Regions from separate parts of the Homo sapiens genome. Here region 1 is linked to region 2. The links come from fine-mapping of genetic effects on gene expression. Tissue or cell type: whole blood. Region 2 holds a variant in brackets; the other region holds the start of a gene. All regions are shown on one strand. Distances are from middle to middle.

Region 1 (8,100 bases), 53 kb before region 2:
TGCCTCGGCCTCCCAAAGTGCTGAGATTACAGGCGTGAGCCACTGTGCCTGGCCAGACCTTGATAGTATTAATACATATTAAATTCTACACTTTAATTTATTGTTTTAATTAGAAGAACATCACTTATTGCTTTATGCTATGACACTGGAAAATCGGCCGGGCGCGGTGGCTCATATCTGTAATCCCAGCACTTTGGGAGGCTGAGGCGGGCGGATCACGAGGTCAGGAGATCGAGACCATCCTGGCTAACATGGTGAAACCCCGTCTCTACTAAAAATACAAAAAAAAATTAGCCGGGCATGGTGGCGGGCGCCTGTTTTCCCAACTACTTGGAAGGCTGAGGCAGGAGAATGGCGTGAACCCGGAAGGCGGAGCTTGCAGTGAGCCGAGATAGCGCCACTGCCCTCCAGCCTGGGAGACAGAGTGAGACTCCGTCTCAAAAAAAAAAAAAAAAAAAAAGAAAAAAAATTGGACAATCTTGATGAAGAAGACGGGACACATGTTTCCAGGTTTCCAATTTGGAACTTCAAGGCTGACAAATTCCATACTCATTTCTCATCATCCCTTGAGGCCCCTCCTGAGTGGGTGGCCCTTCTCATAGGGCAGGGGACAACTGTAGATCCCTCTTGCTCCTCAGCAGCCACCTGCCTCACCCCAGCCACCTGTGCACACTTGAAATATATACAGTTTATTGTATATAAGCAACACATAGATAAATCCCTGATTATAGTTGGAAATCTTATTATTCCTCTCTCTGGAATGGATTCAAAGAAGTGGGAAAAATTCAGTAAGGCCAGCATGGTGGCTCACGCCTGTAATCCCAGCACTTTAAGATGCCCAGTCGGGTGGATCACGTGAGGTCAGGAGTTTGAGACCAGCTTGGCCTACATGGTGAAACCTTGTCTCTATAAAACATACAAAAATTAGCTGGGTGTGGTGGCAGATGCCTGTAATCCCAGCTACCTGGGAGGCTGAGGTAAGAACTTGGGAGCCGGAGGTTGCAGTGAGCTGAGATAGTGCCACTGCACTCCAGCCTGGGTGACAGAGTGAGACTCTGTCTCAAAAAAAAAAAAAAAAAGCCTTTGTGTTTTGCTTTTTTACTTCCCTAAGCTTTATTTTATTTATTTTTAATTTTTATTTTTTGAGACGGAGTCTCACTCTGTCGCCCAGGCTGGAGTGCAATGGTGCGATCTTGGCTCACTGCAAGCTCCGCCTCCCGGGTTCACGCCATTCTCCTGCCTCAGCTTCCCGAGTACTGGGACTACAGGCGCCCGCCACCGCGCCCGGCTAATTTTTTGTATTTTTAGTAGAGACGGGGTTTCACCGTGTTAGCCAGGATGGTCTTGATCTCCTGACCTCGTGATCCACCCGCCTCAGCCTCCCAAAGTGCTGGGATTACAGGCGTGAGCCACCGCGCCTGGCCTCTTTCCTAAGCTTTATTATTGTTTCACTTGATTTTCCCAAGAATCCTGTGTAATAGGTGAACTAGTTCATTATTCCCACTTTCCTGCTGGGAAACGTGCAAAGAGCCACGTAATCCATACCACACTTGGCAGAACCTTCCAATCACATTGATTACTTGTGGTGAGGATAATTAGAAGTTAGCATATTTTCCTAAAATTTAATCTATTATTAATAGATTTTTTTTCTCTTCTGCACTTCAACTTGAAGGCAGCAGAGGGCGCCTGATCACACAAAAGATACACTCTAAAAGTCAGCGACAGATTAAAGATAATCCATGAAAGTTTCAACAATGTGAATTTTACTAAAATAGAGCCTTGTACTTAATCTTTTGACTATTTTAGGATCTGATCTCATTTTAGATGTTCTATTCCGTCTTTCTCAGTATGAGAATTTCAGTCTCACGTAAATCACCATGACACCTATAATCCAAGAGCCTTCTAATTTAGCTTCAAGCTTCTTTCAGATAATAAAAGTATTAAACCCCGCATCCACCAGATCCTCCTAAATCTTCAATAGGTCATACGCTCTCCCTGTCTCCGGCCTGAAGTGGGCACCACTGTAATGTACTGCAGCCAGATGTGCTGTGAATGAAGAGCCTTTTGGCTTCAAGTGCATTGCCTCAGGTTTACCCAGGATTTTTAGAAAAATATTAAAGGATTACGTATGTTCTTAAAGTCATAGTACACTAGAGGGGACAGAACTATTTCCCGAGGGCAATAGTGAGGATTTAGCCTTTTGTAGTTCGTCATGGAAGATAAACATGCCTGGATGCCCAGGCTGGGTTTCTGTGAAATTCTCCAGCTCCTTTCTGCTCAGCTCCTAACCGGTTTTTTTTTTCTACCACCACATAGGTTTCCTACAAGCAGTGCTGGAGACCATGGTGGTCTTCAACCAGTGCTATCTTTTCTTCTCATTATTTCCCCAAATTTCATTTTTCTTCTTAAAGAGCTAGGTTTATGGATAAGGCTTGGAGTGGGTTGGAAAATCATTCCTCCTCAGCTGCTCAGTGACTAGTCATTGATTGGATCTAAGGTAACTTTTTTTGTTTTTGAGACAGAGTTTCGCTTTTGCTGCCCAGGCTGGAGTGCAATGGCGTGATCTGGGCTCACCGCAACCTTTCCTCCCGGTTCAAGCAATTCTCCTACCTCAGCCTCCTGAGTAGCTGGGATTAAAGGTGCACACCACCACACCTGGCTAATTTTTTTGTATTTTTGTAGAGACGGGGTTTCACCATGTTGGCCAGGCTGGTTTTGAACTCCTGACCTCGTGATCTGCCCACCTTGGCCTCCCAAAGTGCTGGGATTACAGATGTGAGCCACTACGCCTGGCCGAGTTAACTTCTTCTTTTTTTTTTTTTTTTTGAGACGGAGTCTAGCTCTGTTGCCCAGGCTGGAGTGCAGTGGTTCAGTCTCGGCTCACTGCAACCTCTGTCTCCCAGGCTCAAGCCATTCTCCTGACTCAGCCTCCCGAGTAGCTGGGATTACAGGTGCGCACCACCATGCCTGTCTAATTTTGTATTTTTAGTGGAGATGGGGTTTCACCATGTTGATCAGGCTGGTCTCAAACTCCTGACCTCAGGTGATCTGCCTGCCTCTGCCTCTCAAAGTGCTAGGATTACAGGCGTGAGCCATCACACCTGGCTGGATCTAAGATAACATCTTTTTTTTTTTTTTTTTTTGAGATGGAGTCTTGCTTTGTCGCCCAGGCTGGAGTGCAGTGGTGCAATCTCCGCTCACTGCAACCTCTGCCGCCTAGGTTCAAATGATTCTTTTGCCTCAGCCTCCTGAATAGTTGGGACTACAGGTGGGTGCCACCACACCTGGCTAATTTTTTTTTTTTTTTTTGTATTTTTAGTGGAGACAGGGTTTCACCATATTGGCCAGGCTGGTCTTGAACTCCTGACCTCGTGATCAGCCCGCTTCAGCCTCCCAAAGTGCTGGGATTACAGGAATGAACCACCACGCCTGGCCTAAGAGAACTTTTAAAGGCTGACTCACACACAAAGTAATAAACTAGATTATTTCCTGATTTATGCTTTCCCTTTGCCAAATTTTGGCTTGTCCTTGTCCTTAATTTGCCTTATTCCTTGATTACCCATCCAAAGATGACATCTTCTAAGTAGTGATAAGCATTTTTACTCTGCTCTTTCAAATCATAACATTCCATGCACTGCAGATGATTTTGCCATTTCTTACGTAATTTGAGGCAAATCCTAGAGTACAATTTCCTAGCAGGCATTTGGATATTACCTATCTTTATTTCTCAGGCTCCACAAATTGAGTACCCTTTCAGGGTGCTATCATTAGCTCTAGCCTACCTATGAAGAAACAAAAGTCCTCCATGTTAGGACATTTGAGGACATGCCCTTAGTACCTAACAGTGTCTGGCACATTTTAAATGGGAAGGTGGAAGGGCCCCCCCATTTTTTTTTTTTTTTAAGATGGAATTTTGCTCTTTTGCCCAAGCTGGAGTGAAGTGGCTTGATCTCAGCTCATTGCAACCTCTGCCCCCTGGGTTCAAGCAATTCTCCTGCCTCAGCCTCCCAAGTAGCTGGGATTACAGGTGCCCACCACCACGCCTGGCTAATTTTTGTAGTTTTAGTAGAGACGGGGGTTTCACCATGTTGGCTAGGCTGGTCTCGAACTCCTGACCTCGTGATCCACTCACCTCGGCCTCCCAAAGTGCTGGGATTACAGGCGTGAGCCACCGCGCCCGGCAGGGACTGTCTTACTCAGGATCTGCAAAATCTTATAACTGTGTGAAATTTTTTTTCTGGGAAAAAAGCACTCATTTGTTTGGTCTGAGGGGAAAAAATGGGGCTAGCCCAAGAGTCGCCCACTTAGTTCTACCCAGGGCGAAGCAATGTGCCTTAACGGGGGGCACGTGCACCCCGGAAAACTCAAGAGAAAATGAGCCGGGCGTGGTGGGCTCCTGTGGTCCCAGCTACTCCAGAGGCGGAGGTTACAGCGAGCCGAGATCGCGCTACCGCACTCCAGCCTGGGCGACAGAGCAAGACCCTGCCTCAAAAAAATAGAAATAAAAAATAAAACTCAGAGGGCACGTCTCCTAGGACACGGGGACAGGCTAGGTGGGGGCACAGGGCGTGAGAATTGGCGAGCATGGCCGGGGTATGTCAGGCCGGGGCTGCCATCTTTTTTGTTTTTTGAAACAGGATCTCGCTCTGTCGCCCAGGTTGGGGTGCAGGGGCGCATTGCTGCCTGGAACTCCTTGACTCAAGCGATCTTCCCGCCTCACCTTCCCGAGGAGCTAGGACCACTGGGCGCGAGACACCACGCCCGGTTAATTTTTTTTTTTTTCTTCTGTAGCGACTGGGGGTGGGGGGTGGTGTCTCGCTTTGTTGCCCAGGCTGATCTCGAACTCCTGGACTCAAGCGATCCGCCCGCCAAGGCCTCCCAAAGCTCCAGGGTTACAGGCATGAGCCACCGCGCCCAGCCCGGGGCCGGTCATCTTTTCCGGGGCCTTATGCAGAGTCCGAGGCCCCCGAGCCCGCTGCCGAAGACGGAGCTCCAAGACCGAACCTCGTAAAGGGCCCAGCCGCACCTCTACCCGGAAGCGGCTCGAACTCGGGGCCGGAAGTGACTCCATTTCTGTGCGCCGAGCTCCGCCCCACGAGCACCTGTTTCCGAGCGGAGAGCGCGGGCCGTTTTCTTTCCTGGTGTCCCGTCGCGGCTTGGGACCCGGCAAGATGGGCAAGAAGGGCAAGAAGGAGAAGAAGGGCCGCGGCGCGGAGAAGACGGCCGCCAAGATGGAGAAGAAGGTGTCTAAGCGCTCGCGGAAGGAGGAGGTGAGCGGGTCAGACCGGGCTTAGCGGCCCGACGTCGCGGCCGTGCAGCCTCGGCCGACTCCCTGCGCCCCCCGGGGTTACGGGTCGGCCGTGGGAGCCGCGCCGGCCCTGCGGGAGAGCTGGAGGCCGTAGGAACTGCCCCGGCGCCGCGTCCGGGCAGCCCAGACGGGGCCCGCCCCCTCCTGAGTCTCCACGTGTGTCTGTCCGCTTCTCGGAGCTGCCCCCTTTAACGTGCTTGCTTTTCTTAGTGTGGTGTCACGGGCGTTTTTCTGCGTTTCCTCCCCCTCCTCCCTTCTCCCTCCACCCTCCCTCTGAAGGGAGGCTGGGTGGTGAGAAGAGGGAGGGGTTTGGCACAGGAAGACCTGAGGTTGAGCCGGGGGCTGCCTCTGCATGATGTGTGGTCTGGGAGTAAGACTCTTAACTTTTCTGAACCTTACTTTTCTTTCAAAAGAGGGCAAATAATCATCACAGCAGCCCTGAGCAGTGAGCAGCAGATGGTTAAGTGAAGAAGGCACTGGAGCCACGGGGTATCCCGTAGCAGCTGATGGCGGCCATCACGGTTGTCTCCTTCCCTCTGGTCCTCAGCCCGGGGTCTGCAGGAGGATCCGTCCTGACCTTGGGGTTGAGTGTTCTGCGGCTGCTGCTCATGGATTCCCTAACCGGGGCCAGTTTTATGGCCTGCCGTGCGCCAGGCACAGCTCCCTGGGCTTTACTCCTCACGAGCAGGTCAGTTCCGTAGCACTGGTATTCCCATTTGACAGGAAGACCAACAGGTGAACCATGAAGTGGTATGGAACTGGGATGTGACCAGATGTCCTGAATCAGGAGCTCTTGACCACAGTCCTTTGTCCCTTTTCTTCCTAAGTCATTGATCTCTCCATGTCCTCATCTCTTAAATAATGGAGTTGGACTTTTCCCTCACACTCCTCTTAGGCTCTTTCTTTTTTTTTTTTTTTTTTTTGACAGAGTCTTGCTCTGTCACCTAGGCTGGGCTGCAGTGGCATGACCTGCTGGCTAGGGTTGTGGCACAGGAAGTCAGTTCATCTGTGTGGTATCTTCAGAATGGTGCTTGGCAGAAAGTAAGCACTCAGTAACCAGCTGTTAGCTGCTTTCTGCTTTTTTTTTTTTTTTTTTTTTTTTTTTTTGAAGGAGTTTCACTCTTGTTGCCCAGGGTGGAGTGCAATGGTGCGATCTCAGCTCACTGCACCTCCGCCTCCCAGGTTCAAGTGGTTCTCCTGCCTCAGCCTCCCAAGTAGCTGAGATTACAGGCATGCACCACCACACCCAGCTAATTTTGTATTTTTAATAGAGACCGGGTTTCACCGTTTTGGTCAGGCTGGTCTGGGACTCCTGACCTCAGGTGATGCGCTCGCCTCGGCCTCCCAAAGTGCTGGGATTACAAGCCGTAAGCCACCTTGCCCCGCCAGTTACCTGTCATTTTTACTCATCTCCATGTCTCCCTCCAGTACCCAATACTAAGGTGATTGTAACAGTAGCTTCCCTTAAGAGAGAGAGCCTGTCAGGCCTGGGGTTTGTATGTTATCTGAATGAACCCTCAAAACAAACTTTTAAAATAAGTGGGCGTCTGATTAGGCTAGACCCACAGAGGATCATCTCTTTCTTAAATTCAGCTGTGTCTGTAATACAACCTAATCACAAGAGTGGTATCCCATTCTTTCACAGTCCTGGCAATTATTGGGGGAAGGATTGGGGACAGTTTGGAATTCTGCTCCCACAGAACTCATGTATCAGGTCACCTGGTTCGCACCTTCACTTAGTCCTGGCCTCTGCCTGTCTTTCCAGCTGTCTCCCTGGGCTCACTCCAGCCACAGTGTCTTTTAGTGTCTCAAACATGGCAAGTTGTGTCTGTGGTCTTACCTATACCCCAACCATACTCCGTCTGAGTCGTCTTTTCAGCATTCAGCTTATTGTCACTTTGGAGAGGCTGTCACTGGCTAGGCCACTGGCGTCACCCAGACCCTACCACCTTGCTCTCCTTCAGTCACCCAATGATGATGAGGTTCAGCCAAGGTCAAAGACCGCTCTAAGTAGCAGCAGCAAAGCTTTCGCGGTACATAGACGTTAGTATTTGAACTGTTTGTTTAACCTCGTTGAGCAAAAAAAGCAAGTTGAAAGAATATACAGTATGATACCATTTAATGACATTTTATTTTTTATTTTTTTTGAGATGGAGTCCTGCTCTGTCACCCAGAGCAAGTGTCGCAGTGGCATGATCTCAGCTCATTGCAACCTCTGCCTCCCAGGCTCAAGCAATTCTCCTGCCTCAGCCTCCCGAGTAGTTTGGGACTACAGGTGTGCGCCACTGTGGCCGGCTAATTTTTGTATTTTTTAGTAGAGACGGGGTTTCACCGTGTTGGTCAGGCTGGTCTCGAACTCCTGACCTCAAATTATCCACCTGCCTCGGCCTCCCAAAGTTCGGGGATTACAGGCGTGAGCCACTGTGCCCAGTCCATTTAATGACATTTAAAAATGTAAAACAATACTATATGTTGCTTAGGGATACACATGTGTAATAAAAGATTGAAGAAAAGCGTGAGACTAATAAGCATCGAGTTCCAGATAGTGGTTACTTGAGGGAATGTGTGGGTGGGTACATGTGGGTGACACTTTATTCCTTACCCTGGGAACCGTATACAGGAATGTCTTGGATAAAGTTCTGTTAACTTGTGTGTTTTAAATATTGCATCGTTTAGAATACTAAGCAGTGTACCCTGCTGACATTCACCCTGAGATGAGAGGTAGACTGAAGGAAGCACGAGGTGGGGCGTGGCAGGCTGAGGGAACCTGGCGTTTTCATTGAAGGAACGGA
Region 2 (8,100 bases):
GTCACAACACTTCAAGAAAAGAAACTGCTGTAGAAGGAGGAGTTAGAAGCTGTTGGGGAGGTCGAACCATGGGCCCTGTTAGAGGGTGTGGCCAGCCAGCTGTGTGCCGGAAGGAACCTGTGGACCCGTGTGAGCAGATCAGGCCTTGTGAAGTGCTCCACCTCTCTGGCTTGCATGGTCTGGAGGGGAAGTACTTAAATATTGTAGCATAAAACATTCCCCCATAGGCTGTTAATTCTAAGAAGACAATGTTGCTGTCAGCAAAACAAGACGGTTCATATAGACAGGTGCAGGGTACTACAAGGAGACAGAGACCTGCCGAAGCTAAGCAGCGATTTGAGTTTCTGATGACAAATAGAGACGTCACTGAATTCCTTCCTTGTCCCCCCAGCAGATGAAGTCTCTGGGTGTCAATTCAGTTCACAATAATGCTAGGCCCTTAGGTTTGGAAAAGCAGGCATGGAAATGACAGCCATTTTCTATCAACCTGTTACAAAAAGAGACTAGTCTCAATCACTGTCTGTAATGTGCAGAAACTGCATCACTGGAATTGCACAGATGTTTCCAGAAGGAGAACAAAAGAGACCCAGACTCAGTTTTCACTTCCTGAGATTCAGGTCACTCTCCATATGGCCAATGTGGAGCCCTCTTAGTTTTAGGACACTCAGGCCCAGGTGGAAATATGAAGTCTCTGTGGACAGTGGATCATTTGCATGTTTCAAAAGGAAAATGTTTTTTTTCCATTATAGTAAATACAGTACATGTTAGCTATAAGAAAAATAACCATAAACAAATATTTCCTTGCTCTACCAGATGGGACGGCCTAGAAACAATACTACCCGGTAGCAGTTTACACATCCATTGCCCAAATCTTGGTCTCTTTAATTTTTTTAATTTTTGAGAAGTCTCACTCTGTCGTCCAGGCTGGAGTGCAGTGGCATGATCTTGGCTCACTGCAGCCTCTGCCTTTCAGGCTCAAGTAGTCCTCCCACCTCAGCGTTGGGAGTAGCTGAGACTACAGATGCATGCCACCATGCCTGGCTGATTTTCATATTTTTTGGGAGAGATGGGTTTTTGCCATTGCCCAGGCTGGTCTTGAACTCCTGAACTCAAGCAGTCTGCCCACCTTGGACTCTCAAAGTGCTGGGATTACAGCAAATCTTGGTATCTTAGTTTCTTTTCTTTTCTTTTTTTTGAGACGGAGTCTCGCTCTGTCGCCCAGGCTGGAGTGCAGTGGCGAGATCTCGGCTCACTGCAAGCTCCGCCTCCTGGGTTCATGCCATTCTCCTGCCTCAGCCTCCCCAGTAGCTGGGACTACAGGCGCCTGCCACTGTGCCTGGCTAATTTTTTTGTATTTTTCGTAGAGATGGGGTTTCATCGTGTTAGCCAGGATTAGTCTTGATCTCCTGACCTCATGGTCTACCCCCCTCGGCCTCCTGAAGTGCTGGGATTACAGGTGTAAGCCACCGTGCCCGGCCCCTGGTTTCTTGGTTTCTAACACTATTCTCCAACAAAGGGAACCAGGGCTCCCTTGAGAAATGGCGAATCGTAGGGCCGAGCAGGGAGTATATAGGAGGAATTGAGCATCTTGTGGTGCCAGAGCCTAAGGAGGTGCTCAAAGGAACCCACAAAGATGGTGCAAGTCACAGGGACCCAAGAGTAGCTGTAAAGGCTCCTAGTGGCAGCTGTGTGTCGTTGAACAACCCGAGCAACAAAGATGGGTAGTGATAGAGCATAGCCGAACTCTGCGTCAGTATCCACGAGACATAGCGCGTACCCAGAGTCTACGTCAATATCCACAAGACCATAGCGTGTACCCAAAGTCTACGTCAATATCTACAAGACCATAGCGTGTACCCAAAGTCTATGTCAGTATCCACGAGACATAGCGCGTACCCAAAGTCTACGTCAATATCCACAAGACCATAGCGTGTACCCAAAGTCTACGTCAATATCCACGAGACATAGCGCGTACCCAAAGTCTACATAAATATCCACAAGACCATAGTGTGTACCCAAAGTCTACGTCAGTATCCACGAGACATAGAGCGTACCTGAAGTCTGTGTCAATATCTACGAGACATAGAGCCTACCCAAAGTCTGCATAAATATCCACAAGACCTTAGAATGTGCCCAAAGTCTGTCAATATCCATGAGACACAGAGCGTGCCCAAAGCCTGTGTCAATATCCACGAGGCACTGAGCGTGCCTGAAGTCTGTGTCAGTATCCATGAGGCACAGAGCATGCCTGAAGTCTGTGTCACTACCCCTGCGACCACAGTAGCGTGGCCGAAGTCTGTGTCAATATCTGTGAGAACATAGAGCTGAAGAGAAACTGTCAGACACGACCTCAGCCAGGCGGTCGATGTCAGCATCCACTGTGATGAGTCCTGTTGATGGTGTGGACCCTTGATGGGATGTGATGAGATGGGCACTTCACCCCGGGGATCGTCCTAATGATTCATAACCCCAGTCTAATGAGAAAGACAGCAGACAGTCCCAGTAGAGGGGCACTCTATAAAACTCCTGAGCCATCCACACAGCTATCATGGTCCTCAGAGACAAGGAGAGTCGGAGAAGCTCAGGGCCCAGAGGAACCTGAGGAGGCGACAGGACGAAACGGCCAGTGGGACCCTCGACGGGATCCCTGGGCAGGATGAGCTGCGGAGCACTGGGGCAGTGAATGAAGTGTGGGCCACGCTCCCGGTAACGGGTCAGTGCCGGTTCCTGATCCGTCACAAGGGCGCCAAGGAGAGGAAGGTATTCATGCTGGGAGGACATTGGTGTGGGCGTGTGAGAGCTCTCGGTACTATCGTCTCAATTTTCTGCAAATACAAAACTTCTAAAATAGTGTATTAAAAATAGAGAATTAAAGTGCAAACAAATACAAAGATGAGATGGAAATGGATGGGGGCCCTCCACCCAGGGTGAGCGTTTTGCTGGCTATCTCCCTCACAACCTTAGGTCCCAGGTAATGGGTGTGGCACCAGGACTTGTAGGGCATGGGTGCTGGGGAACAGTGCACCTGGTCCAGCTGAGGCTCACTTGAGGCAGAAGACTAAGGGCTAAGGGACATGGAGCGCGTTGTTTTCGAAGCTTGGAGAAGTCTTTCAGTGGGCAGTGCCTGCCCTCTGCACACAGTAGTAACTTGATTTCTGCTGTGAAGCCTGAGTCGTGTTATTTGGAAGGCGGTGGGGATCCACCGGGATCAGGAACAAAGAGTGACTCTGTAATGGTATCAGAGGCCCCTGTGGTGGTTTCCACACAGACCAGGGCTGCTGTGGAAGCTGTGCGTGCCCCGACAGGAACTCTAGTGTACTGTGTGATCGCGGCCATTAGAAAGGTGGCCTCTTCAGATGGACCCATTTGGGGGATAAAGCCTGTCAGGTGGTGCCAGCCCTGAGCACACTGCAGGCACGCTTTGGAGCTTTGGGGCTGGTCTACAGGGAAGGCCTCCAGCCCCTTCCATCCAAAATGCGCCCACAGGGTTGGGGGGTCTGTAAGCAACCACTGTAGCTGCCCCCGGTTCTCACACAATTCCTTTCCATTGCAGAGAGTTAAGAAAGACGTGGACAAGGGCACACGGCACTCAGACATGTTCCTGCTGAAGCCAGAGGACGGAAGAGAAGGTAGAGGTGCTGTGCCTCCAGGGCGGGAGCTGGCTGGTCTGTGTGTGGCGGGAGGCAGAGCCCACACCCTCCCATGGATGTGGGGCTGGCGGTGAGCCCCTGCACCCTGCCCGGAGCGGAGGGCCTGCCGAGATGGCTCATTTCGGGGTGGGCCGGGTGGGACAGGCTCCATAGCCCTGGTGTCTGCTGGGCAATCACCTTTGGGGGCATTGATGATGGACTGACTGAGAAGCACGGGCGCTGTTACCCTGCAGACAGCCCTCTGTGGAGCAGTGAGCACAGTGCCCCTCAGCAGCTCCTGATGGGCCCCTCCAAGGGTCTTGAGCTCTCGAAGGGAGAACCATCCTGGGCCTTGAGTACAAGCCACCAGGAGTCACTGGGGCTGCCTGGCACTGTGGTGACGGGCCTCGCTCTTGGGGTGGTTGCGGGCAGCAGCTGGGCAGGCTGGGTGTGGGCTTCCCAGCCAGGGGTCGGTGTTGCTCATGCACAGAACTTCAGAAGTCATCACCGAGACTGCTATTGGCCCTCACAGGGACGGCCTCCAAGAACGGCCGTGGCCTCTGTCAGCTTGAGTTACTGAACTCGGGGCTGTTAGAATGCCTAGATTTCTAAAAGCTTTTAGCTAAACTGGGATCTAAGAATCAAAATTTTCTTACTAAAGCACAGGGGAACAATCATCATTCTCTGGGACTTTTTAAAAGGATGACATGGGATGACCTAGGGGACAGCCCTTTACATGGCTCTGGCACCCAGAGGGCCCAGGATGTGTCAGCCACTCTCACCACCTTCTACACATGGCACGTTTCATGTTCCTGGGCGTGGGTCATGTGCTGAGATGAACTGTTGGCGGCGTTTCCTGCCAGTGGCTGCCCGTCAGTTCTCACAGACCTCTGAAGCGG[A/G]AGAAGCCGTGCCTGTGTGGAGCATGGGCGGGGGGATGGGGGTGGCCTGCTACTTTTCAATCATTAATTTCTTGATTTTGAAAAAAATTGCATTTGTTACTGGCTGGGCGCAGTGGCTCATACCTATAATCCCAGCACTTTGGGAGGCTGAGGTGGGAGGATTGCTTGAGGCCAAGAGTTTGAAACCAGCCTGGGCAACATAGTGACACACCATCTCTTAAAAAAAAAACGTAGCCAGGTGTGCTGGCGTGTGTGCCTGTAGTTCCAGCTACTCGGGAGGCTGAGGCAGGAGAATGGCGTGAACCTCGGAGGTGGAGCTTGCAGTGAGCCGAGATTGCACCACCGCACTCCAGCCTGGGCGACAGAGCGAGACTCTGTCTCAAAAAAACAAAAAAAATATGTAGCCAGGTGTGCTGGCGCACGTCTGTAGTTCTAGCTACTGGGGACGCTGAGGTGGGAGGATTGTTCTAGCCCAGGAGGTGGAGGCTGCCGTCAGCTGAGATCGTGCCACTGCACTCCAGCCTAGGCAACAGAGTGAGACTCTGTCTCAAAAAATAAAAAATAAATAGAAGGAGACAATGGCATTTGTTCTGCTCCAGAGCAAGAGAGTGATGCCAGGAGGCACAGATCAAGGGTGTTTGCCGTGGAGTTTAGCGTCCCCAGTGCCGTTAGGAAACCAGGGGACAGCTCTCTTATGGGAGGCTGTGGCTTGGGACCAGAGGGCTGGGCTAGACCCAGGAGACCCAATGCCTAGGCCAGGTCTGCTTTTGTGACCCACAGCAAGTTCTCCAGCCTCCCCAGGAGAGGGGACCATTGTGCAAAGTGTTTTTACCTCCTTCTTGCACTAAAATTCCTCATGCTGAGGCCTCAGAAATACCCGAAGGGTTAATCTGAGTCCACACCCATTTGCCTGTCAAAAGGCCCAGGTGCCTCTCCCAGGGCCCTGCCTTACTGCACCCTGGCTGATAGGACAGACGCCTTCTTTCAGTCACTTTCCAGCCTACACCCCAGTGAACTTGAACCTGGATGCTGGACTGTTTCCCGCAGGGCGGCCCTGAGCCTGTGTGCTCTGCTCGTCAGCCCCCAGGAGGAAAGCATCGTGGTGAGGAGCGACACACCTTGTGTGTGTGGGTTTCTGTCACCGGAGAGGGTCCTGCCCTGTGTGGCGAGTTCTTGTGGTGGTCTTCCCTGTTCCTTCACACAGTCATGTGCTGGTGGGAATGAGGCGGGGGCCCCAGAGCCACGCCCACACTGGGCATGGGCGGGTGACGTCTAGCACCACACAGAATACGTCCATTTGCTGCTTCTGTTTTTTTTTTTAAATGTTCATTGGAGGAAAAAAATCTCCATTCTGTCTCCTAGAAGTGGTGGGGAGACATCTGCACATTGGGCTCTGTTTGAGGGTTGGCACATCACATAGGCGCGTGCCAAGAGAGAACATAGACCCTTCCTGAAGTAGAGCTGGCCACACTGCAGCCCAAGGTGGGGCTGGTGCAGGCACTCAGACCCCAGGCGAAGGCTCCTCGCTGGCCACACTGCAGCCCCCGGGCGAAGGGTCCCTGTGCAGGGCGGAGGGTCCCCGTGCAGGCCCAAGGGCGGCTGGCACAGGCATTCAGCCCCCTGGGCGAAGGGTCCCCTTGCAGGGCGGAGGGTCCCCGTGCAGGCCCAAGGGGGGCTGGCACAGGCATTCAGCCCCCTGGGTGAAGGTTCCCCGTGCAGGGTGGAGGGTCCCCGTGCAGGCCCAAGGGGGGCTGGTGCAGGCCACTCAGCCCCCTGGGCGAAGGGTCCCCGTGCCGGGCGGAGGGTCCCTGTGCAGGGCAGCCTCCCCACAGAAGCCCCTCTGTGTGTCTAGCGTGTGTGCTGCTTCTGCCCAATCCCTGCCTTTCCACTGCGGCTTGTAGCTGCCCCTAGTTTAGAGGTGCTTGGGGGTGTGTGGAAAGCTGTTGAATGCCAGCTCTCTTAAGGAAAAGGGTGGAACTCGAGGGGAGTTGAATGGTGTCTGTTTTTCTGCAGAGGGAGCAGAGTTTTTGCCCACAGTCTCACGGTTTTCATTTACCCCATTCTGGGGGGCACCTGGGGTCCTGAGCGTGTCCTGGGCTGGCTCTCAGGGTCCTTCCTTGTGTTCTTATCCCACTTCCTTGTTCTCTTTTGACAGACAAGTGGGTTTGGACTCGGATGAACCCTTCGGGGGTCAAGCCCACCCCACGGTCTGGCTTTTCCGTGGCCATGGCCCCGAATCACCAGACACTGTTCTTCGGGGGTGTCTGTGACGAGGAAGAGGAGGAGAGCCTGTCGGGCGAGTTCTTCAACGATCTGTACTTCTACGACGCCACCAGGAACCGTTGGTTTGAGGGACAGCTGAAGGTAGTGCAACCTCTGAGTAGCATGCGCCGTGGTGCGCAGCCCTAACTTGGGTCCCTGCCACCACTGCCTTCCTCCAGCACCTTTTGGTATTGGGGCCCCCAAAGCCCATGAGCTCTCTCAAGAGGGGCGAGGGTTCCGTCTCTGACTGTCCTGGGTGACTAGGCTTGGAGAGCCCTTGGTCACGGTCCCCTTAGTCTGTCCTGGATGCTGGCGGGGCTGCTACCTCAGAAGCCAGTTGCCCTGGGCTGAGGTGCCCGGGACCTCCCCGGCCCTCTGTGTGAGAAGGGTTTGCTGGAGGTCCTGGTGTGGACCAGCCTGTGTTATGACCCTTGAGCTTCCCTGGTTTCCGACACCATCTTTACTGTCCACGTGAGCATAGCTGCTGTCCAGGGCCAGCCCAGCACAGGCACAGCAGTGGGTGACAGTCCCAGAAGGGGATCCCCCAGTTGGCCTCAGGGTCTCTGAGTGTACCAGGTCAGCCGGACCCAGAAAGGGCCAAGGAGGGCTGGTCGCTGTTGGTTGCAAACTCCTGAAGCTGCTTTTGACGTGTGGTGGCACCTGGGCTGGAAATTGGAAAAACACGCGGGTTCGTTTCTGGACCCACAGTCCGCCTCGCTCTTTTACTTTAGAAGGAATTGCTCCAAGCAGAGTCTACACAGGTTTCCCCTGTGGCTTTTCTTCAGAGAGCGTGTTGACCCCAGCTAGTGTCACGGTTCTCACACTGTGATCTCAGGGCCGTTGACATTCCCCAGGATTACGGAGGACCTCAGAGAGCTTTCCCTTTTGAAACTCACTGTTGCAGAGTCCAGACACAAAGTGGATCTTAGAAGTCTAGAATGTGAAGCTGACTTTGGGTTGATCTGGAGGTAGTGATCCTTGGAAAATTTGGAAATAACCTGGCAAATGTCACCTCGTGAGCTGGCAGCGTTTTGTGACAAAATGACAAAGGCTGTGACAGAAGGGTCCAGACTGACCCCTGCGACGCAGCCAGGGAAGTGGGACAGAGAGGGATGGACAGCTGTCCTGCAGGAGGCAGCCTGACCTGAGAGCTCCCCTTTAAAAACGTTTGGTGAGGAAGGGCCCCTCTCTGGCTCGCCGTTTGTAGTAAATGAGCTGGGCTTGTGGGCCTGACCGTCTGTCTTGCTTGGGAAAGGGGAGGAAGCCCCTCAGCCTGGCTTCCCCAGCCCTTCTGGGAGCCAGCACTGTGG

Evidence for each region. PIP is the estimated chance that this variant, and not a neighbour inherited with it, causes the effect.
Region 1: KLHDC4 starts here. The variant in region 2 is fine-mapped to the expression of KLHDC4 in whole blood (TOPMed, PIP above 0.99). The same link has a PIP of 0.9 or more in blood mononuclear cells.

Annotation. Positions count from the first base shown.
Region 1 is chr16:87,762,962-87,771,061 of GRCh38, reverse strand. It overlaps KLHDC4 (kelch domain containing 4), which reads left to right and starts at 5,076. Exons shown (of 12, transcript NM_017566.4): 1 at 5,076-5,270. The coding sequence starts at 5,172. It overlaps LOC105371399 (a long non-coding RNA gene), which reads right to left and starts at 5,021. Exons shown (of 3, transcript XR_933871.3): 1 at 4,721-5,021. LOC102724467 (a long non-coding RNA gene) reads left to right here. Exons shown (of 4, transcript NR_120309.1): 4 at 4,638-4,731. RefSeq lists enhancers at 4,981-5,040, 5,121-5,180, 5,164-5,788.
Region 2 is chr16:87,710,027-87,718,126 of GRCh38, reverse strand. It overlaps KLHDC4 (kelch domain containing 4), which reads left to right. Exons shown (of 12, transcript NM_017566.4): 8 at 3,554-3,629; 9 at 6,684-6,892. Among named protein-coding and RNA genes, the nearest start is that of KLHDC4, 52 kb to the left of the region's middle. RefSeq lists a silencer at 1,164-1,352. The variant A/G (reference allele first, on the strand shown) is at 4,529.